Linked DNA regions of Homo sapiens: all the other regions are linked to region 1. Evidence: fine-mapped expression QTL. A gene starts in region 1. Each other region holds a variant in brackets. All regions are shown on one strand. Distances are between the middles of the regions.

Evidence for each region. PIP is the estimated chance that this variant, and not a neighbour inherited with it, causes the effect. A credible set is the group of variants that fine-mapping cannot tell apart.
Region 2: its variant is the best candidate, but not a certain one, in a credible set for the expression of ZFP69B in whole blood (TOPMed, PIP 0.52).
Region 3: its variant is the best candidate, but not a certain one, in a credible set for the expression of ZFP69B in lung (TOPMed, PIP 0.75).

Annotation. Positions count from the first base shown.
Region 1 is chr1:40,446,976-40,455,048 of GRCh38, forward strand. It overlaps ZFP69B (ZFP69 zinc finger protein B), which reads left to right and starts at 3,501. Exons shown (of 5, transcript NM_023070.3): 1 at 3,501-4,113; 2 at 7,228-7,313. The coding sequence starts at 3,987. It overlaps ZFP69B-DT (ZFP69B divergent transcript), which reads right to left and starts at 3,064. Exons shown (of 5, transcript NR_198977.1): 1 at 2,845-3,064. RefSeq lists a silencer at 3,120-3,379 and an enhancer at 3,595-4,794.
Region 2 is chr1:40,414,606-40,422,678 of GRCh38, forward strand. It overlaps SMAP2 (small ArfGAP2), which reads left to right. Exons shown (of 10, transcript NM_022733.3): 7 at 667-776; 8 at 1,571-1,736; 9 at 2,175-2,491; 10 at 7,371-8,073. The coding sequence ends at 7,496. Among named protein-coding and RNA genes, the nearest start is that of ZFP69B-DT, 31 kb to the right of the region's middle. The variant C/A (reference allele first, on the strand shown) is at 3,702.
Region 3 is chr1:40,485,272-40,493,344 of GRCh38, forward strand. It overlaps ZFP69 (ZFP69 zinc finger protein), which reads left to right. Exons shown (of 6, transcript NM_001320179.2): 4 at 3,817-3,943; 5 at 4,258-4,353. It overlaps EXO5-DT (EXO5 divergent transcript), which reads right to left. Exons shown (of 2, transcript NR_187365.1): 2 at 5,754-8,073. Among named protein-coding and RNA genes, the nearest start is that of ZFP69, 12 kb to the left of the region's middle. The variant C/T (reference allele first, on the strand shown) is at 4,684.

The DNA.
Region 1 (8,073 bases):
ATAGAATAGTTTCTTATCCCAAAACTATGGCTAGAATCACCTTTATGTGAACACGTTAACAGTTGTGCTTTTACTTTAAAACAAAAGTTTACTTTGACTAGGATACGGGGTAATTAAAAAAATTAAAAAGTGAAAAAGAAAACAAAACTTTACTTTCTTGAAATTATACGATGTGTAACATGTACAGCAGGAACCCAACTTGATTTGTTCTTGCTATGGGCTGAGTGTTTGTATTCTGCCACAAACGAGTATGTCGAAGCCCTAACCCCTAAAGTGACTGTATTTGGAGATGAGGCCTTTATAGAAGTAATAAGTTTAAATGAGGTCACAGGGGTGGGGCCCTGATCTGTTAGGATTAGTGTTCTTAAAAGAAGAGACATCAGAGAGCTCACTCTCCTCAAGCACACAAGAAGAGGTCTTGTGAGCATACAAGGAGATGGTGGCTGCCTACAAGCCAAGAGAAAAGGCCTCAGAAGGAAACCTACCTTGCTCACCCCTTGATCTTGGACTTCCCAGCCTCCAGAACTATAAGAAAATTAATTTCTGTTGGTTAAGCCACCCAGTCTATGGTATTTTGTTGTCAGCCAGTGAAGACTCATACTGTTCCCCAAATGGCTAACTAGTTGTCCTAATGATATTTGTTGAATAATCCATCATTACCCAGCTGCTTTGAAACGCCAGCTTTACAATATACTAAATTTAAATAAAGTGTCAAGTCTGTTTCTGAGTTTCCAATTTCATCTCACTGATTTCCGAGTATATTTTGGCACTAGTTTTATTTTGATTATTTTGCCTCCATAATACAAGGTAATATCTGGTAGGGCAAGTCTGCCTTCATTATTGTTGGAAAACATTATTGGCCATTCTGGAACACTTGCCATACTAGCTAAACTTTAGAATCATTTAGTTTAGTAAAAAGAAAAGTTGATTTTCTTTTTTTTTTTGAGATGGAGTCTTGCTCTGTCACCCAGGCTGGAATGCAGTGGCATGATCTTGGCTCCCTACAACCTCCACCTCTTGGGTTCAAGCGATTCTTTTGCCTCAGCCTCCTGAGTAGCTGGGATTACAGACACACACCACCACACCCAACTAATTTTTGTATTTTTAGTAGAGATGAGGTTTCGCCATGTTGACCACGCTGGTCTCGAACTCCTGAGCTCAGGTGATCCACCCGCCTTGGCCTCCTAAAGTGCTGGGATTACAGGTGTGAGCCACCATGTCCGGCCGAAAAAGTTGAAATTTTGATTGGGATGCATCACAGTTTATGTGAACTGGAGGAAGAGTGACATACTTAGAATGTTCTATTTCAACTCGTGAATGTGTTGTATCACTATTCTCACCATTTAAACAAAAAATTTGGAGTTTTATTTATAATTTCCTGCATAATTCTTGTTTATTCTTAGCTGTATTTTTCTGATATTTTATTATGAAAACATATACATATACAGAAAAATTGAAAGAATTTTACATTACGGCATCCCTATACCACTACTTAGATTCTACCATTAACATTTTATTGTATTTCATGCTGTATTTTTGTTGAGTAGCAGATAGGAACATAGACTGCCTGTGTTCACCACTTGTAAGCCACATGATCTTGGCAAGTTATTCAACTTCTCTAAATCTCAGTTTTCTTATCTGTAAAGTGGGAATAATAATAGTACTTACTTCCAGTGGTTTCTGTGATGACAAAATAAGTTAAAATATGAAAGGCACTTAGGACAGAGCCTCATATTCTGTAACTATTATATGCTAGTGTATTCATCAGCTTGGGCTGCTGTAACAAAATACCATTGACTGGGTGGCTTAAACCACGGATATCTGGCCGGGCGCAGTGGCTCATGCCTGTAATCCCAGCACTTTGGGAGGCCGAGGCGGGCAGACACCGAGGTCAGGAGTTTGAGACCAGCCTGGCCAACATAGTGGAACCCCGTCTGTACTAAAAATACAAAAAATTAGCTGGGCGTCGTGGCGGGCGCCTGTAATCCTAGCCACTTGGGAGGCTGAGGCAGGAGAATCGCTTTAAGCCAGGAGGCGAAGGTTGCAGTGAACCGAGGTCACGCCACTGCAGTCCAGCCCTGCGGACAGTGCGAGACTCCATCTCAAAAAAACAAACAAACAAACAAACAAAAAACCGGAAATTTATTTTCTCAGTGTGGAGACTAGAAGCCCCAAGTAAGGTCGAGTTGGGTTCGTTTCTGACTAGGACTATATTCTAACCTTAATTACTTCCATAAAGGCCTTATCTCTAAATACTCTCCAAATACAATGGAGGTTAGGGCTTCAAGATAAATTTTGGGGAATCCAAACATTCGGTTCATAACAGCTAGCAAGTACTATAATTGTATTCTATTTCCTCATTTGTTGTTTTTGTAAACTGTTGATGTAGAAATGTATTTGGAGTGATGTACTCAAATTTTGTTGGAGGGAGAAAACTCAGCAATAAAACAGCATTACAGTATAATCGCTTTTGTGGAAAATATATAACAATGCATGAAATACGTTGTGTGTGTGCAGGAAAGGTTGTACACCAACTGTTAGCAAGGTTACCGCTGCTTGCTGAAATTACAGGCAATAATTTTTTTGTTTTTGTGTATTTTCTGGCATTTCAGAAATACAAGGTAAGCAATAAACATGAGAACTTTTATTGAATACTAGAAGAGAAAACTGTTGTGGTATTCTTTTAACAATATACCGGAATCCATTCAACTGTCTGCTGAGAATAAATAACTGGCATGTACATAATATTTAGGGAAAGTGCTATGGATTATTTTACACCAGTGTCGTTTCACCAAAAAACGTGATGCCGATGGCTCCCTTTTGTCACGGGTTTCAAAGGCTCACCCTAACGTTCACGTGCATTTTCCCAGCGGAGGAAAGATGGTTGTTCTTCATCAGAGTCTGGGGCCCAAGAACGCAGGCTCCATCTCCTCCCGCAGGAGCCAGGCTGATGATGCTCGCAGGGATCGGATACTGGGAGCCCCTGAACGCAGCCAACCCGGCGCGCACCGGTGGGGGCGTCTGCGCTGGCGGAGCGGCTCCCCGGGAGGACGCTGGGAACCATGCTCTAGCCAGCCGCTGCGCAGGCGCACTGGGCCCCGACTGCCCGCCGCAGCGCTACGTGGGAGCTTGGCCGCGCAGTGCCGGAACCCGGCTGCAGCGGTGGGAAGGCGGGGGCGTGCCGGCCCAGCGGGGAGAGGGTGAGCGGGTGGCTGTCCCGGGCTTGGGGAGCTGGGCGAGCCGGGAAGCGCGAGTTCCGCCCGCGGCCACCCTGTCGCGCGCGGTGCTCTCCGCAGCCCCGGAGTCGTGCTCAGACAAAGGCTGGGAGGCTAGGGCCGGGGGCGTTTTGCTTTGTGGGGAGGACTTAGCCTCTCATTTGGGGAGGAGGAGGCGGGGTCTAGCGGTTTCGCGGTTTGCTACAGCCGACTAGTGAAAGAGCTGGGATTCCAAATCCCCGGCTACTTTACACATAATTACTGCCCCAAACAAAGAATTGGGTTGTATTCGTCTCTTTGTGCTTCCTGACATGTGCGCGGTGCTTTGAATTTTGTGGGCTGTGTCTGCCCACCGTCTCCGTGTATCTTTTGGAAACATTTTACAGTGATCCATATATGTTCTAGCGTTCTGCCCTATGACTGAGCCTCCTTAGTCCTTTGCTGATTCTAATGTCTTCTGCTCAGCATCTGCAGGGGCTGCTGAGAGTAAATACTTGGCGCCTCCAGCTGCTGGCCAAGGAGACAGATGGAGCTCAAGTTGGGAGATACGCCCTGAGAGCCGATGATAGACACAAGTCCAGATCTCGGATTTTGATACTGTATGTTCCCTGGGTTCCTGAGAGAGGACATTGAGGAGTAGGAGTCGGCGATTAAGGAGATCGGTACAATTGGGAAGCCTCCTGTCAGAGCTTCCAGCAATTTCCTCATCAGAGGTGGACAAGCCCTATGGGCTAAGACAGAGGGTCCTCAGAAAGGAGTGCGGACGCCGTCATGCTGCAGCAGCTCCTGATCACCCTGCCCACCGAGGCCAGCACCTGGGTGAAGTTGCGTCATCCAAAGGCGGCCACGGAGCGGGTGGCCCTGTGGGAGGATGTGACTAAGATGTTTAAAGCAGAAGGTAAGAATAAACTGATGGGTGGGAGGGAGGAAAAGCAGTCCCCTCTAGTGTGAGAAGGAATGAGTCACTTGAGTGGAAGCATCTCTTAGGGAGACGAGTGGGTGGAGGGTTTCCGGAGTTGTTGATTGTGGCTCCTAGTCTGGGGTTTTCCTAAGTAGTGGTGGTCTTTTCAGCCTAGGACCAGTATTTCAGTGTCATGGTTATGTATATTATTTATTTTCATCTTTCCCATGGCCATGTGGGGCAGGATGGACTTAACCTGATTTTTCTTATTCTAACAGTGGGGAAATGTAAATCAAATGGGAGGCCTGCCCAGGGTCACACAGGAACTTGGTGGCTAGGTCAGAAAGAGAAGCAGCAGGGGAAGTACCAGGTGAGCCTGGAGTAACTTGTGCTAGAAAGCAAGGAAGAGCTTAAAGACTATGGATATGTGTCAAAAGAGGCCAGGTTTAAGGGTCTCTCACTCGACAGATTTGGGAAAGCTTAAGTATCCAAACTGATGGTAACACCTTGAATAAGTAAAATTCCACATGATCACCTTGACACTTAAAATAGAGAAAGACGTGGGGGGGGGGGAATTCATTTGCAAACATTGGAGGTAATTAATACACTGATTCCTTACTTTGAAAAATAGGTTATTATGGGAATGAATGTGCATTTACCTTGCCTTTTAGATCCTCTTCAGTTGGTGAGGGAAAGCTTTTTACAGAAAATGCGTGCCAATAATGAAGGTAGAAAGAGGCCAGGTGTGGTGGCTCATGCCTGTAATCCCAGCAATTTGGGAAGCCAAGGTGGGCGGATTGCTTGAGACCAGGAGTTTGAGGTCAGCAGTTTGAGACCAGCCTGGCCAACATGATGAAACCCCATCTCTGCTAAAAATACAAAAATTAGCTGGGCGTGGTGGCACATGCCTGTAATCCCAGCTACTCGGGAGGTTGAGGCACGAGAATCGCTTGAACTAGGAAAGGGGAGGTTTCAGTGAGCTGAGATGGCGCCACTGCACTCCAGGCTGGGTGACAGAGCAAGACCTTGTCTCAAAAATAAATAAATAAATAAATAAATGTAGAAAGAATGATAGAATCTTTTACCGTAAATAAAATAATTGAAAGGTTAATGGGGAACAGATACTCACATGATATCAAAGTATTATCCCCTCAAATTACTTACTAAATGGCAAGGAATGAACATAATTTTCCAATAGTGAGGTGTGGTGGTCACAGTTTTAATCAAATGTCTCAGTAATGGGATAGCCGGGCATTTTATACTTTGCAGATACTGTAATATAAAGCACCTGGTACCACCTACAAGGTATTCCTACCAAAAATGTTGAACATGATCCTAAATTAAGTTTAAAGACTGAACTGCTGGTTTACAGAAAATACAGGGGATGGAGAAATGAGATAAACCTCACATTGAGGATACAGTCAGACTGTTCTTGTATCTTAAAAAGACAACATCATGAAGAAAGGGGAAGTACTTATTCTAGAGTAAAAGAGACTAGAGGTAACAACCACTTTGAATGTGTGAGCCTTGATTAACTCCTGGTTTGGAAAAAATCCAGAATAAAAGTTGAGGAAACAGTTGAGGAAATCTGAATATGGACTGAATATTTAGATGATACTATGGAATTATTGTTAATTTTCATAGATTTAATAAATAGTACTGTGGTTGTACAAGAGAAGATCCTTATTTGAAATATTTAGGGATAAAGTATTATGATGCAGACGACTTTGAAGTGCTTCAGAAAAAATGTAGATAGGTAAAGCAAATATGGTAAATATTAACAATTGTTGAATCTAGATGTGGATGTATAGATGTTCAATATTCATGATAAAAAGTTGGAATAAAATACAAAGACAGTTATTCATGTGCCTTAATTCCTAGTGGTTTTTTTTTTTTTTTTTTCCTGTCACCCAAGCCGGAGTTCAATGGCTCGATCTTGGCTTATTGCAACCTCTGCCTCCCGGGTTCAAGTGATTCTCCTGCCTCAGCCTCCCAAGTAGCTGGGATTACAGGCGCCTGCCACCACGCCCAGCTAATTTTTGTATTTTTAGTAGAGACGGTGTTTTACTATCTTGGCCAGGCTGGTCTCCAACTCCTGACCTCGTGATCCACCCACCTCAGCCTCCCAAAGTGCTGGGATTACAGGCTTGAGCCACCGGGCCTGGCCTGTAGTGCATATTTTTAATACCTCAATTCAGCCAGTGTTACTTAAATTCTAGAAAGCTGGCAGTGTGTTATGTGTAGCACTTTAGCAGATGGAGAAAAATGAGCAAGGTACAGTTTCTATCCATACCCTCATTAATACTCAACTGAGAGAGATAATTAATTATAAAAAGCAACCTGAGATAGATACTAGAATAGATATAAAAACCAAGCTTTTGGGAAGCATAGGAGAGAATAAACTTTCTTCTCATTAAGGGTGTCTGGGAAAACTTTACTTGAACTGGGCCTGAAGGGTATCGCAGTTTTTCACCAAATAGGATTTGGGTGGGGTACTATCCACATGTATTCAAAGAATGGTACCAGGATTGTGTGGGTAGGTGTGTCCAGTGGATGAAGGATAATGTTTAGAGGAGATAATACTTGGAGAAGCCATGGACTGGTTGTGGAGGATCTTGAAATCTATGTTGATTAGTTGGGCGTGGTGTCACACGCCTGTAATCCCAGCTACTCGGGAGGCTGAGGCACGAGAATCTCTTGAACCTGGGAGGTGGAAGTTGCAGTGAACCAAGATTATGCCACTGCCCTCCAACCTGGGTGACAGAGCAATACTCTGTCTCAAAATCATAATAATAATTAAAAAATAACAAAAAAGAAATCTATATTGAAGTGTTTGCATTTTTCTTTCATGTCAGTGGGGAAACCTTTGAGGATTTTTGAACAAAAGATTGGCCTGAGAGATTACTAAGACCATTGGGAAATATTAATGGTGAAAGCAGCTTGCAGCAGGTCCTCCTTATTAAGGAGGCTTTGAGCTGCTCTTGAGTCCGTCTAAATGTCCCTGTTTGTGAACGTTTTTGGGGAGAAGCCACAATGAGTGGGTCTGTAGGCAGTTTCTCTGTTTGGGTGATTTGGGGAGATGCAAACCTCATGGCTCTTTTCCTTCCCCAGCTCTGCTGTCTCAGGATGCTGATGAGACCCAGGGCGAAAGTTTAGAGAGTAGAGTGACCCTTGGATCCCTGACAGCAGAATCCCAGGTGGGTTGGAGTTTCTGGTCACTTTCTTGACATTGTTTCTCAGATTTTAAGAGCGCAGGAGTTTGATTTTCTTTGACTCAACTTCCTGGATTGGCTTTTCTTTTTTTTTCTTTTTTTCATTATTTTTTGAGACGGAGTCTCACTCTGTCACCCAGGCTGGAGTGCAGTAGCGCAATCTCGGCTCACTGCAAGCTCCGTCTCCTGGGTTCACGCCATTCTCCTGCCTCAGCCTCCCGAGTAGCTGGGACTACAGGTGCCCACCACCACACCTGGCTAATTTTTTGTATTTTTAGTAGAGACGGGGTTTCACCGTGTTAGGCAGATGGTCTCAATCTCCTGACCTGGTGATCCACCCACCTCGGCCTCCCAAAATGCTGGGATTACAGGCATGAGCCACCACGCCCAGCCGATTGGCTTTTCTTAGCCTGTTCTTCCTCAGAAAACCAGGCCACATCAGTTGATTTCACAGGTAATCTCCCCACCAGTAGTAACCCTCCACAGGAAACCTCTTGTTTTTGCAAACCTCTAGCCATTTATCCAACAAATACATTGTGCTGAGGCCGCATGTGTGTGTGAGAGAGAAAAGGAAATAGAGAGGAGAAGAAGTAATGTAATGTAGTCCTAGCCCATGAAATTCACATATCATCTGGGAGAAAGACAAATATGAGTCATTTTAAGCAACATTTAAAAGTCAACAGAATCAGTTTCTGATATTCTTGGAGATGTATACACTTCATTGATGACCTTTAAGTGAGGATTT
Region 2 (8,073 bases), 32 kb before region 1:
ATAATGCCTCTAAAGCTCTTAGCCCCATGCCTGGCACATACTGAGCCCTCCATAAATGTTAGCAGTTTTGCTAAACAGCACCTTTGAGCCTCATGTCAATTCCCTGTACTCCACTCCCTGCCCCCATTCCTTTCATTTTTCAGATGCAACCTGTTTCTGAGATGGCCTGTGGTCATTTTTCTCCAAACCTTTGAAATCCTGAACTAGTGATTCTGCCCTTTCAGAAAGAAAGCCTGTTGTCTGCCTTTCACAGCACTGATGGTTGCACTTTGTTTCCATCCGCTTCTGCTGATTGAGGTTATTGGCTACTTAGGCTTCTAATTTCTGTACCTTTCCTTGCTCTCTGAAAATGAACCCTCCTCCATACCTTGCCCTTCAAATAGCCAGAAGGGAGCCAGCCAGCCCCCCACTGTGGTGCTGAAATACCCTTCAGGCCTGGGCGTCTGCTGCCCTGTGCCTGATAGCTGGGCTACAGGCTTCCCCAGAGCACTCTGGGAATGTGGGGTGAAGCCTCTTTTGAGAAGCCCCGTCCATGCTAGATGGTTCCAGAAGTCTAGATTTCTAGGTCCATGAGCTTATGGGCCACCTTTGCTTTTTGTCTAGAATAGAAGGAAGGCATGGGCTTAATAAGCAGTGCTGCATCTTAACTTCGATCTCTCTTTCTAGATGCTCCTGTGGCCTGCTCCATTGCAAATAGTAAGACCAGCAATACCCTAGAGAAGGATTTAGATCTGTTGGCCTCTGTTCCATCCCCTTCTTCTTCCGGTTCCAGAAAGGTGAGTCTTGTGGGCTCCTCAGGATTAAAGAACATTCTGAAATGGGTGATTTTGATATCTTAATCATGGAACCACGTCATGCTTCCTTGGTGGAGTTGGACTTTGGTTTTCTTGATTCTTCATTCTTCCCTTAACATTGTGTCATTTCTGTCACAGTCTAAGATTGCTGTTCATGCCTTTTTTTCTCCTGCTCAAAAAGGGTGGGCCATTTGAGTTGCTTCTCTGGAAAGTGTGTGATACTGTGAAGGCTGATACTTGAGGCTAGCTCCTCGGCCTGAGTTACTGCCAGAAAATTGTAGGTAGGAAAGACTTGAAACCTTTAATGGCTACCATTCGTGAAACGCCTGCTATGTCTCAGGCACAGTGTGAGGTGGTTTTTGTATATCATTTTGTATATTTCATTAATAATTTCACTCCTTCACCACAAACCTGCAAAGTGGAAATTTTACAGATGTGGAGACATTAGTTTGTAAAAGTTATGTGACTAGCCTGTGGTTATACTAGTAAATGGCTACACTGGGGTCTAAACTCAGTTCCCTCTGCTGCATCATTTGTGGGTTGTTTTGTTTGTTTGTTCCTACCAAATCACATGTTTTGGTGAAAGGAAAGAATTGTAACAGAGCTTAATTATCAGGTGTGTTCAGATAGTTGAATGGTAAAAATGTTAGGAAGCTATTAACTTGAGCCATGAATTCTTATTGCAGATGTTAGGAGCAGCAGAGAGGGAAGGGAGACCCTTAAAGAGACCCCCATGAGAACCATTTCAATTCTCCCCCCGCCCTCTTTGCCCTAAGGTTGTAGGTTCCATGCCAACTGCAGGGAGTGCCGGCTCTGTTCCTGAAAATCTGAACCTGTTTCCGGAGCCAGGGAGCAAATCAGAAGAAATAGGCAAGAAACAGCTCTCTAAAGACTCCATTCTTTCACTGTATGGATCCCAGACGCCTCAAATGCCTACTCAAGGTAGATTTCATGGGTGTCATGGCCATGTGCCAGGTAGAGACATGAGGGCTTCCATGCAGGAATTATTTATTGTGACAGAGGACAGTTGCTTTGGGGGCCAGGATGTCATACACCAAACAAACCTGAACATGACCAACGTATCAGCAGATGGAAATTAATGTAACTCAGAGTCATACTTCTGTGGAGTCTGGGGTCACAATTCGGTGAAGTCTAGCTCAAGGTCTGGATCTGGACCCTAAAGGGAAAATGGCTCGGTCAGCAGCCCATTGGTAAGCTATAGCAGGCCTCGTAGGGACTCTAACTACTTTGCTGTGTAAAGAGCATTGTGAGTAGAGTAATCCTGAGAAATTCCAGCTGGAAAGGGTTAGCCAGGGAGAGTTCGGGCTGACTTTATGTTTTTCCCTCTTTAACCAACCTGTATGTGTGTTTTCTTGGCAGCAATGTTCATGGCTCCCGCTCAGATGGCATATCCCACAGCCTACCCCAGCTTCCCCGGGGTTACACCTCCTAACAGCATAATGGGGAGCATGATGCCTCCACCAGTAGGCATGGTTGCTCAGCCAGGAGCTTCTGGGATGGTTGCCCCCATGGCCATGCCTGCAGGCTATATGGGTGGCATGCAGGCATCAATGATGGGTGTGCCGAATGGAATGATGACCACCCAGCAGGCTGGCTACATGGCAGGCATGGCAGCTATGCCCCAGACTGTGTATGGGGTCCAGCCAGCTCAGCAGCTGCAATGGAACCTTACTCAGGTAAGCTACCCCATTTTACTTGCAGCAAGAGTTTTGAGCCTTCCTCAAGTTTTTCTCGGTTTGTACCTCTCCACTATCCTTTGAATCCTTTCCATGTAGATGAGATAATGTAAGAGACATTGTTAGGTTTGCTTTTTTTTTTTTTTTTTTTCCTAGAAGGTCTGTCTAAAGTCAGACTTTCTGAGGAGTTCTGGGCTCCTGTAGAATAAGCCCAACTGCCTAAATCTGAATCTCTCCACACATTCTCAAAAGCAAAAACAAACACACAAAGAAACCCTGTACAAACAATGAATGCAGATATTCTCACAACAATCTCATTTGGTAGACAGAATACTGCAAGGTTCAAATGGCATGGCAATGGGCATATAAACACCAAATCCAGCGGAGCCAGCATCACAGAGGAGACTGTAAAAAGAGAAGATGGAGCAGGGGCCTAGCAATAATACCACAGATAAAGTAACCCCCCAGAAGGAGAAGGACCTACCCTCATCAAAGACATACTGAGAACAGGTCTGAGATGTGGTAGATTAGAACTCTGTTTACTTGGAGGATCAAAAATAAGAGACTTCAGATATATAGGAGTATAGGTAGTAACCTTGGGAAAGCATTGCTTCTCGGGGAGATGGGCATGGCCTAAAAGGAGGAGGTACCCTTTAGAGGACTGGTGGTGAAGGAAAGAAAGACACGAGAAATGGGAATGAGAATCACAAAATCAAATATACACCTTCTTCCCTCTTCCAAAATAACCACTTCACTAATAAAAGATGGTGCTCTTAATCTAAGAAATTTAGTAAGCCTCCCCAAACCTTCACACCTATTATTGCTGATTGAGAAAAAATAAGACCTTACAAAAATGAACCAAACATGGAAGCTGACATTTGTACACAACTACTACAGGAAGAAAATAGAAAATGAAAATCAAAACATTTCACGTAATGAATATTCTCCCTCAAAAAACAGTCATGAAGCAGAAGAAAATTGTTACACAATCTACCAATCTGAATTAAATGTCCTTAAACATTTGCAGATAAGACAAAACACCTTAAATCAGAAATTCAAAAACTTAAAGCCAAAATGGATAAAAAACTGCATGCTGTGAAATGAAAGTTTACTAAACTCAGAAAAGAAATTGAAGAAAAAGCCAAAATTTTCGTATAAAGACTCAATTACAAGTTAGCTAAAGAACAATAGATTGAGCTGAAAATATATT[C/A]GGCATTGAGGAAAGGCATGAAACAGCTAAGAGAATGAAAACTAAATATAGAAAGTAGTAAAAAGAATTAGATGGAAATTAATATGGAAGTTAGGCAAAGAAAACTTACATATATTTGGAGATGCCCAAAGAAATAAAGACAAAATAAATAAAATATGGGACAGTATTAATGTGTTTAACACCAGAAAACATTCTAGAAATAAAAGACTTGGATATAATATGGAAAGAGCCCACTGTGTGTCTGGGAAAATTGACCCAGAACAGTCAACTTTAAAACATATCCCAGCAAATCTACAGACTTTAAAGAACATTCAAAATGTTTAGGGGTCCAACCTTTTCCATACCTCCTACCCACAAAAATCTGTTACTTAGAACAAACAAAAAATACCCAGGTTGACATCAGACTTCCTAGCAGCAAAATACAAAAAGAATAACAAGGAGAGTAGTATTTTAAAGACACTCAAGTGTATGCAAGACACAACAAGTATTTTACAACCAAGCCAGCCAAGCTATCCTTCAGGTATCAAGGCTGTAAAAAATAAATATGCAAGAACTCAGAGAATATCACACTTACAAGACTTTCCTGGGGAATCTAACAGAAGATAAGCTTCATCCACCTAAGAGATGACTGGGGTCATTTTCATTTTTGGCAAAAGAACTGATGGTGAGAATTGAATGTTTAATTGAGAATCTAAGACTAAAACAAAGGTGGTGACAAGCGTTGCAGAATATACATTATATTCTGACAAACAAATACAACTGAAAATGAAGGAGGAGGGAGAAAAGTTGAATAATAAATATTGTATGGGAAAGAAGTAGAAATCGAAGGATGCAATAAGCTGACAAACCAAATCACGGAAGCTTGAATAAGGAAAAAGGAGACCAAGGACATTGCTAAAAAGTATTACTATGAAGGTAATCACTAGAACAAACACGTGAAATGTTCTGAATACCAAGATAATTTTCTTCCTTTCTTTTTTTTTTTTTTTTTTGAGACAAAGTCTCACTCTGTCACCCAGGCTGGAATGCAGTGGCACAATCTCGGCTCACTGCAACCTCCGCCTCCTGGGTTCAAGTGATTCTTCTGCGTCAGCCTCCCGAGTAGCTGGGATTACAGGCACCCGCCACCACACCCGGTTAATTTTTTTTGTATTTTTTAGTAGAGACGGGGTTTCACCATGTTGGCCAGGCTAGTCTCAAACTCCTGACCTCAGGTGATCCACCCACCTTGGCCTCCCAAAGTGCTGGGATTACAGGCATGAGCCACTGCGCCCAGCTGAGAATTTTTAAAAACAGACTACAAAGTGCAGCAAATACAATAAACACAGTAAAAATCTAATATGATGGAGTTGAGACCAAACATACCAGTCATACCAGTAGGCAACTCTTCTATCAAAAGAAAATGATGTTCAAATTGGCTAACAAAGCAACACTAGTTTTGCACTAGGTACAAAGAAATACAAAGTGATTTAATGTGAAAACCAAGAGACAGGCAAAGGAACCCCAGAGAGGTGGTATGGTGCATGTGTACTGCACATGTGCATGTATAGCTATCTTTATCAGGGTTATACTTATTTATAAGAAGTACTTTTATGTTTTTGTTTCTCTGTGGTCCAGAATAATTTATGTAGCTCTGGTCTTTGAAGGTTTTGTGGAATTCCCATGTGAAGTTTGTGGGCACTATTGCTTTTTTTGTAGCAAATCTTTGATACTTTTCTCTGTTTCTTCTATGGAAGTCAATTTTGGAAAACTGTATTTACCTAGATTTTCCATTTCGCCAAGGTTTTCAAATTTATCAAAAGTTATGCCTAGCAGTCTCATTAATTTTTTTCAAAGAACCAGGATTTCGATTTATTGGTGCTACATTTTTCCGTTTTCTACCTCAATTTCCGTAGGCTTTCTATGGGTTTACTTTGTTATTTTCTAGCTTTCATAGTGGAGATTTTAATTCACTTATTTTCATTGTTTCGTTTTTATTTATATAAGTAATGGAATGCTATAAGTCTGATGGGAATATGTCAGAGGGACGCATGAGCCAACTTCCAGTGGCTCTGACTGGCCAAATGTGAGACAATTTGAACATCAAAAAGAGTAACAACAGTAATGGATTATGACACACTGAATGGAAAAAACAAAACAAAACCATGAGTCCACGGTGATATTTTTTAAAAACCAGGTGTGGAATGGAGGGAGGAAAAGCCTTCTTTACAGAAGAATGACAGTAGTTGTAAAAAGAGCAAAGGATTGACACATTTGCAAAGAAATGCCCTTCAGATTATTTATTAATTATAATGAAAGAAATATAGTCACTACCTCAGCCAAGTGATCAAACATAAAATTACTGACAGAGGAACAAAGTAATGTCATATGCTTCCTGATATTTTGTACTAAGAAAGACATGTGTCACCTCCATAGAATCTTGCCAAAAATATTGAACCTCGATCCAATTATGAGAAAACATGAGATGAATCCAAATTGAGGGGTATGCTACAAAATAACTGTCCTGGGTTCTTAAAAATGTCAGTGTCAGGAAGAAATGGAAGGAAGTGTTAGGGAAACTGGTCTAGCTTAAAGGAGACTACAGAGATCTGAAAATGAAATGCCATGTACATTAGAATATGGTGTTAATGTTAAAATTCTTGAGCGTGTTCATTGTTTTGTGGTTCTGTTAAAGTGTTCATTCTTATGAGGTGCCTCCTGACTTAGGAATGAAATGTCGTGATAGCTGCAGCTTTTTTTTTTTTTTAATCTGCAACTTTTGATACTCATCAAAAAAATGTAAGTTTTTTTATAGGGAGGGAGAGAAAATATGGCAAATGTTAACAGTTGGTGAATTTAAGGAAGAAGATACATGGGTTTTATTGTACTATTGTTTCAACTTTTATGTCAGTTTGAAATTTACTTTAAAAGTTGGTACAAGAAAATAATAGTTTCTCCTAAAGAAAAATAACTTATATAGAAAATTTACTAGGCTTAGGAAATTCAAGGCATTTTTCTCCATAAAGTATTTTTCTGTTCACTGCTAGGGGCCAGTCTTTCCATCAGATTCATGAAGGACCCCCGCCCCATCCTGCCCCAGGCCTTATTCCACTGACTGTTTTCTCCCAGCTCCTTCCCTTCTTATACACTGAAGACACATTAGTCTTCCCCCGCCCCCGCCCCGCCACCGCCTTTGTTCATTCTGAACAGTCCAGTTCCTTTTTTTCCCCCTTGTGCAAACGAGCAAGCCTGCTCAAGCGCTTTCCCTGACACTGACAGTAATAGCTGTGCTGAAGATGAGGCGGGAGCACTGGGGAGGGGGCTTTCCTTTCAGCTTTTAGGATTGGCCAGGCAAGTTAACAATAGGCCCCTTCTATTTAGGATGAGGGACTGGAAAGGAAAAAGAGAGGAACTCATGCTGATTTTCTGTCGACTAGATCCAGATGCCAGGATGCCTTCTTTCCCTCCCTGAGCTTTAGTCTCCGTCAGCATTGCACTCCCAAAAGGTCATTCACGTACGTGGCCTTGAAATGATCTGACTGCTAAGGTCCAGGGTTTACTGTCCATAACAGAGTTTCCCTTTGTCTCATTCTCCCCATCCTGGCAGAGAAAGGGACTCTCACCCTGCCTTTTGCACTAATTGGCGGAATGCCCACAGCCTGGTCTGAAAGTCTCCTCTCTCCCTTTCAGATGACCCAGCAGATGGCTGGGATGAACTTCTATGGAGCCAATGGCATGATGAACTATGGACAGTCAATGAGTGGCGGAAATGGACAGGCAGCAAATCAGACTCTCAGTCCTCAGATGTGGAAATAAAAACAAAACACCTGTATGGCTGCCATTCTCTTCAGCCCTCGCTCTCCCCTTTCCACAGCCTCCACCCCTGACCCCCATCCTCTTTTCCTACCTCTCTGTTTGGTTTAGAAATTGCTCAATAAGTCATTTGGGGTTTGGCATCCTGCCCAGCCACTTCCCAAACATGAAGACCTCTCTGTTGCTTTATGTTGTACATGCCCCATAGCCATCCCAACGTCCTCCCCAGTCCTCTCCTGGCACCAGCACCTTAGAAGTTGTTGGCAGAAGGCACTTAAACTGTGGGAGAAGTGTGCACACCTTTGAGTCCCTTCCCTCAAGGTTAAAGCTCCTGTCAGACTCTCAGAAGGGTCTGTGGGTGTTGTATATTAGGCAAACAGGGGAAAGCTTAGAGGTCCTTCTATATGTGTTAATAAGCTGTTTCTAAGTGTTTAAATTTGAAAAGCATCATGTTCTCATGATTTATGGGAATGAAGCAAGTACTGAAATCAAATTAAATACTCCCTGGGTCCTGGGTCAGTTTGACCCTAGCCCTGGGGTGAGGCAAGCCCCCTCCTATGAGGATGAGCAAAAATACTAC
Region 3 (8,073 bases), 38 kb after region 1:
AAGTAACTGTGGAATGTTACAAATGTATTTAACATTACACATGTTACAAAAGTAACATTCCACAGTTACTTTGAATTAATGTTTTATGGCTTCACATATCATATGAAAGACTTACGTTATATTTTCATATACTCCTTCCCACTCTTAGTGTGTTGTCAATATACATTTTGTTTTACATGTAAAAACACCACAGTATATTGTTCTTAATTTTGCTTTTAATAGTAAACTGTCTTATAACAAATTATGAAAATGGAAAAAAACATGTCTTTCTTATTTGCCCTCATATTTATCCATTTAGGCACTCTTCCTTTTTCCCTTTCATTCCAGGTTTCTATCTTGCATCATTTCCCTTCAGCTTAAAGAACTTTGTTTAGCATTTCTTATAATGTGGGTGTTCTGGTGACAAATTCTCACTTTTATTGATCTAAACATTTCTTTATATTATCTTCCTATTTGAGGATCTTATTGGATAAAGAATTCTAGGTTGACTGCTTTTTCTTTAAGTAGTTTAAAAATGTTCCATTATCTTTTAGATTGTATTATCTGTGATGAGAAGGCAGGTGTTATTCTTTTTATGTGATGTATCTGTTTTATATCAACTTTTATCTGATGTGCATAGGTGTGATTTGTTGTTGTTGTTGTTGTTTTTTGAGACGGAGTCTTGCTCTGTCACCCAGGCAGGAGTGCAGTGGCATGATCTTGGCCCACTGCAACCTCCACCTCCTGGGTTCAAGCAATCCTCTCACATCAGCCTCTCAAGTAGCTAGGATAACAGATGTAAACTACCACACCCGCCTTATTTTATTTTATTTTATTTTTTATTTTGTGTATTTTTAGTAGAGATGGGGTTTCACCATGTTGGCCAGGCTGGTCTCAAACTCCTGACCTCAAGTGATCTGCCACCATAGCCTCCCAAAGTGCTGGGATTACAGGCATGAGCCACTGTGCCTTGCTGTGATTTTTGAGTTTATCCTTTTTGGGGTTTGCTGAGCTTCTTGGATCTGTGGGTTGATTTTTTTTCCTATTAGTTTGGAAAATCTTCAGCCATTATTTTTCAAATATTTTTTCTACCTATTCCCTCTTCTGAGATTGCTCTTTCTCCCTCCCTGCTTCCCTTCCTCCCTTCCTCCCTCCTTTCCTCCCTCCCTCCCTTCCTTCCTTCCTTCCCTTCCTCCCTCCCTCCATCCCTCCCTCCCTCCTTTCTTCCTCCCTCCCTCCCTCCCTCCCACCACTACCTCTCAGGCTTAAGTGATCCTCCTGCCTCAGCCTCCTGAGCAGCTGGGGCTACAAGTGTGCGCCACCATGCCTGGCTAATTTTTGTATTTTTTTTTGTAGAGACAGGGTCTTCCTATGTTGCCTAGGCTGGTCTCAAACTCTTGAGCTCAAGCAGTCCTCCTGCCTTGGCCTTCCAAAGTGCTAGGATTACAGGCAGGAGCCATCCCACCTAGCCCTGAGATTCTAATTACATGTATAATAGACCACTTGATATTATCCCACAGATTTTTTTCTCTTGGTACTCTAGTTTGAATAATATTTATTGACCCATCTTAAGTTTCACTGATCTTATCTCATCATGGTCTAATCTACTTTAAGCCCATCCAATGAATTTTTAGATATTGTCTTTTTCACTTGTAGAATTTTCATTTACAGTTGATTTTTTTTTTTTTTTTTTAAGATGGAGTCTTGCTCTGTCACCAGGCTGGAGTGCAGTGGCGAGATCTCGGCTCACTGCAACCTCCGCCTCCCGGGTTCAAGTGATTCTTCTGCCTCAGCCTTCCGAGTAGCTGGGACTACAGGCATGCACCACCATGCCCAGCTAATTTTTGTATTTTTAGTAGAGACAGGGTTTCACCATGTTGGCCAGGATGGTCTTGATATCTTGACCTCATGATCCGCCCGCATCAGCCTCCCAAAGTGCTGGGATTACAGGCATGAGCCACTGCGCCCGGCCTACAGTTGATTCTTGAGCAGCGCAGGTTTGAACTGTGCAGGTCCACTTCTATATAGACTTTTTTCAATAAATATATTGAAACATTTTTTGGAGATTTGTGACAATTTGAAAAAACTTGCAGATGGACCATGTAGCCTAGGAGTATCAAAAAAATTAAGAAAAAGTTAGGTATGTTATGAATACATAAAATATATGTAGGTACTAGTCTATTTTATCATTTACTACCATAAGAGATACACGTATCTATTATAAAAAGTTAAAAATTTTCAAAGCTTATGTGCACAGACTATTCATGGTGCCATTCTCAGTTGAGAGAAATGTAAACAAATGTAAAGATGCAGTATTAAATCACTACTGCATAAAATAAACTATAGTACACCTAGTGTATTAGTATGATAATTTTATAGCTATCTCCTGTGGCTATTGTAGTGCGCTCAGGTGTTTCAAGTATTTACTTAAAATTCAGTGTGATGCTAAGCATCTCTGCATTAGCACTTCATCTCTCCGGTAAATTGCATATCACAGTAAAAAGTGATCTCTCAGGCCGGGCGCGGTGGCTCACGCCTGTAATCCCAGCACTTCAGGAGGCTGAGGTGGGCGAATCACCTGAGGCCAGGAGTTCGAGACCAGTCTGACCAACATGGTGAAACCCGGTCTCTACTAAAAATACAAAAATTAGCTGGGCGTGGTGGCGTGCGCCTGTAATACCAGCTACCTGGGAGGCTGAGGCAGGAGAATCACTTGAACCCGGGAGGTGGCAGTGAGCTGAGCTCGCACCACTGCACTCCAGCCTGGACAACAGGGTGAGACTCTGTCTCAAAAAAAAAAAAAAAAAAGTGATCTCTAAGCCGGGCACGGTGTCTCATGCCTGTAATGCGAACACTTTGAGGGGCCAAGGCAGGAGTGCATGTGTATATACATACATACATGTGTGTGTTTTGTATGTATACACACACACACACACACATAGTTTATTCATGTGTTTTGATTTGTTCTATTTCCAAACCCTTTCGTCTCTCTGGTGGTTAAGGTGAGGGGCTCCTCCTAGAGCTGTGGCTGAGCTCTGGCTATCATGCAGCTTTAATTTGATTGAGTATACTTCTGATTAGCCCATGCCACAATTGCTGAGGGCTTTTCTTTTTATCTTTTTGGCATTTGAGCTTAGGAAGGGATTAGACTACAGTTCCAGACAGTTTTGTTCATTTTTGCATTAAACTCCAGCAGGGCCTCAGAATTCAAGTTCAGTAAGAATGCACAGGTCTTTGTGACAATAAGTGCGTGAGGTGGTGGGGGAACCCCTATCCCACCCTGTTCCTCATCTCCACCTCTCTTGATTTCATTTCTTTCCACTCTCTCATCAACCAGCCTACCTCCAGCCATGCTGTTCACTTTCCTGTTCCTCAAGCCAAGGACACTGTCACCTTAGGTCCTTTGCACCTGCCCAGGATGCTCTTCTCTCAGATTTCCATGTGGTTCTTCCCTTTACTGAATTTATGTCTCCGGTCAAACATCACCCTTTTAGAGAGTCTTCCCCAACCACTTTACATAAAAGATCATCCTACCCTCACTGTGGTTCTCCCAATGTCTCTTATCCTGCTTAATTTTTTTCTAAGGTATGTATCACCATCTGTCTTTCTATATATTACATTATTTATAGTAATCTCCAGATTAGAGATCCAGACAGACTACAGTTCCAGACAGTTTTGTTGATCAGATTTGGAGATCAGAGGATCTCCAAACAGATCCAGAGAAGGCTCCTGATAAAAGTAAGTTTAGAATCTCTCAGAATTTAGAATACTGTCAGAACTCCTTGGAACTTAACAGAGGTGGTCTCCGGCTAAAAATGAATGTATTTGATGTTCTAGGAATTGTTGACTTTCAAGGACATATCTATTGACTTCACCCAGGAAGAGTGGGGGCAGCTGGCTCCTGCTCACCAGAATCTATACCGAGAGGTGATGCTGGAGAACTACAGCAACTTGGTGTCAGTGGGTAAGACTTGGCTATCCATGCATCCAGAAACCCACCCATTACAGGAGAGTCATTATTTTAAATTATTGATGTGTAGATTCCTTGAGGCTTGATTTGGGTTCTGTATTAAAGATGTCTTATTCCCTTTGAAAACCAAGTGAGGGCATATCCAATTTGACTTTCTTGGGGAACAACTTTACTACACATAGTTAGGATAGAAAGACCCACCCCTTTCCACTTGTGGAGACCCTGAATACCAGAAGACTCAAAATTCTGAGGATGGTTCTTAGACATCAGCATAAACATTCACACTGTTTTTTTTACTACATAAGCAGGATATCAACTTTCCAAACCTAGTGTGATATCCCAGTTAGAGAAAGGAGAAGAGCCATGGATGGCAGAGAAAGAAGGCCCAGGAGATCCCAGTTCAGGTGAGACCAAGTGTGTTAGTCTGTTTTTGTGTTGCTATAAAGGAATACCTGAAACTTCATAATTTATAAAGAAAAGAAGTTTAATTGGCTAATGATTCTGCAGGCTGTACAGGAAGCATGGCACTGGCATCTGCTCCTGGTGAGGGCCTCAGGAAACTTACAATCATGGTGAAAGGCATATCACATGGTGGGAGCTGGAGCATGAGAGTGAAGGAGGAGGTGCCAGGCTCTTTTTCTTTTTCTTTTTTTTTTTTTTTTTTTTTTGAGACAGAGTCTCGCACTGTCGCCAGGCTGGAGTGCAGTGGCGCAATCTTGGCTCACTGCAACCTC[C/T]GCCTCTGGAGTTCAAGCGATTCTCCTGCCTCAGCCTCCCGAGTAGCTGGGACTACAGTTATGCGCCACCACGCTCAGCTAATTTTTGTATTTTTAGTAGAGACAGGGTTTCACCATGTTGGCCAGGATGGTCTTGATCTCGACCTTGTGATCTGCCCACCTCGGCCTTCCAAGGTGCTGGGATTTCAGGTGTGAGCCACTGCGCCAGGCTGGTGCCAGGCTTTTTAAACAACCAGATCTCATGTGAACTCAGAGTGAGAACTCATTACCATGGGGAGGACACTCATTCATGAGTGATCCACCCCCATGACCCAACACTTCCCACCAGGCCCCACCTGCAACACTGGGGATCACATTTCAACATGAGATTTGGAGGGGATAAATATTCAAACCAAATCACCAAGGCAGATGGAATTTTAATATGTAGGTCAGAGTGCTCAAAGCCTCGGCTGTGGGGAGGGCTCAGACCACTGGACAGAGCCTCCACTAAACTAATATCACCCGTCCCTTCCTTACCCCTTTCCTTCACTGAGCCCTTGCAAAAGTCCCCTGGAGTTGGAGGAAAGAGCAGTCTTGTCCTCATTAAGGTTGAGCTGGATTTTCCCTTTCTCCAGTATCCTAAGGGCTGCCAATCTAAAGCTTTCTCTAAGCAGTCAAATGTATGTGGTATTTTCACAGAAAACCAATCTCTTTCCAAGACTCCCATTGCATTCTACAAATCTTTAATTTTCCTGCACTCCATTTTTACTTCTTGCCAATGTTCATTTTACAATTCCAGCTTCGATTCTCATTCTCTTTTTAACTTATGTATCTTTTTTGTAACAGCTACTTATGAAAACTCCTGTAAGAGAAATTACCAAAGGATTCCTTCTCAACCAAATGTCGGGGTCCCTAACAATCTCCTCAAACTTTGCTTTTTATTCTGAAATATTTTAGACACTCAGAAAGGCATAGAAAACATTATAACACATTTCTGTGTAGCTTCCACCTAGACTAAGAAATGAAACACAGTTGAAGCTCCACTGTCCCCCTTACACCTTTTGAAATAAGCACTCTGCATTGAAATATTATTCCCATGTCTTCGTGCTTTTATTACATGTATAATGTAGTAAAAGCAGTCTATATATCAGTGTATACATACTAAACAATATATAGCATTGTTTTGCATGTTCTCTTTCTTTAAATAAATGGTATATATACTTCTTCCTTTTGCTTTTCTCATTCAACACTGGTGATATTCCTCAGTATGTTATTCTAGTTCATTCAATCCATTGAGTTAATAAACCACAATGTTCTTATTCATTTTCCTGTTGATAGACATTTACATTGTTTCCAAATTTGGGAGTTACAAAGATGCTACAGCAAACCTTTGTGTACATAACTTCTTGTATACATAATGCAAGTGTTTCTCTAAGATAGCTGGTAGAAGCAAAATTGTTGGGTTGTAGAATATATGCACTTTCATTTTGCTAGGTATTACCAATTTGCTCTTCAAAGCAGTTACACCAGGTTATTCTCCCATTAACAGGGTTTGAGAGTTTCCATAACTCAGCATCTTTGTCAACATTTGTTATTGTCAAACTTTAAGATTTTTGTAAATTCACTGGGTTATGGTATCTTGTTTCTTTCATTTTCCTGATTACCAGTGAAAGGAAGTATATTTCTCATGTTCATTGACCATCCATCCATCTCTTCTTCTGTCCTTACTCTAATGCCAGGCTCTTCTGTTAATTACCTGTTTATATCCCTTGCCAATGTTTCTATAATCTTTTTTTCTTATTGATTGGTAGAAAAAAATGTGTGTGTGTATGTGTGTGTGTGTGTGTGTGTGTATATATATATATATTCATTCTAGTATAATTATACATATATTCATTCTAGATAATAATCCTTGATAGCTTTATGTTTTGCAAATGTTTACTCTAGGTCAGTGGCCCATCTTTGACTTTTCAAAATTAGTGTCTTTTGTTAGACGTGAGTTTCTAAATTTAATGTTACTGAATTTATCAGGATTTTCTTTATTGTTTGTGCTTTTTAAGAAACCCTTTTATGCCTTATTATTCTTTTTTGTAAACTTTTTAAATTGTTTTTAGAGACTGGGTCTTGCTATGTTGCCCAAGCTGGCCTCGAATTCCTGGGCTCAAGTGATTCTTCTGCCTCAGCTACCTCACCTACTAAAGAGGCTGAGGCAGGACTACAGGTGCATGCTGCTGTGCCCTGCTATCCTCCATTTTATCATATATGTGGATCATACATATATGTTTTTACATATTCCTGTATTTTCAAAGTTTTGCTTTCCACATTTAGGTTTAATTCATCTGGAATTTATTTTATATAAATAAATTTGTATGTATGAGGTGGAAATCTGATTAACTTTTTCCACATGGATAATCAGTCCAGGAATAGTTAATGCTGCTCTGTCACCTGTCAAGTTTCTTTATATGTTTGGGTCTGTTTCTGTTTTGTATATTCTTTTTCTGTCGTGTTTCTCTCTTTATGTTGTTTTATTCTTTTGTTTTTCTGTCCTTACTCTAATGCCAGGCTGTCTTAAAAACTGTATCTCATAATGAGACTTAATATGTGGTAGAGGTAGTTCACCCACCTTGTTCTTTAAAGTTGTTCTGGTTATTCTTGGATCCTTGTTGTTCTATTTGAATTATATAATCAGAGCATCAAATCACACCCACAAATACTCTGCTGGCATTTTGATTGGAATAGAATTGAATTTCTAGATCAATTTTGGGGGAGTTAACATTGTTATGCTATTGAATCCTTCCAGGAATATGATATAGCACTCCATTTATTGATATTTCCTAATTTTTTTCAGTAACATTTCAGGATTTTCTCCTGTACATATTGTACATTTTTTGTTAGATTGATTCTGAAAATCTTATATTTTGTTGCTACTGTAGATGGTATTTTTTTTCCTTTTCTTTTCCCTGAGCCTCAGTCGTGAACAGGTATATTTTTAAAGAAAGATTATGTTGCTGGCCAGGTGCGGTGGCTCATGCCTATAATCCCAGCATTTTGGGATGCTGAGGCGGGCAGATCACCTGAGGTCAGGAGTTCGAGACCAGCCTGACCAACATGGTGAAACTCCATCTGTACTAAAAATACAAAATTAGCCAGGTGTGGCGGTGCATGCCTGTAATCCCAGCTACTCGGGAGGCTGAGGCAGGAGAATCGCTTGAACCCGGGAGGTGGAGGTTGCAGTGAGCCAAGATCACGCCGTTGCACTCCAGCCTGGGCAACAAGAGTGAAACTCTGTCTCAAAAAAAAAAAAAAAAAATTATGTTGCTAGTAAGTAATAACAAAATTGATTTTGAATATTGACCTTTTATACAGCCACCTTGTTTTACTCTTATTAATTCCAATCACTCTTTGTATATT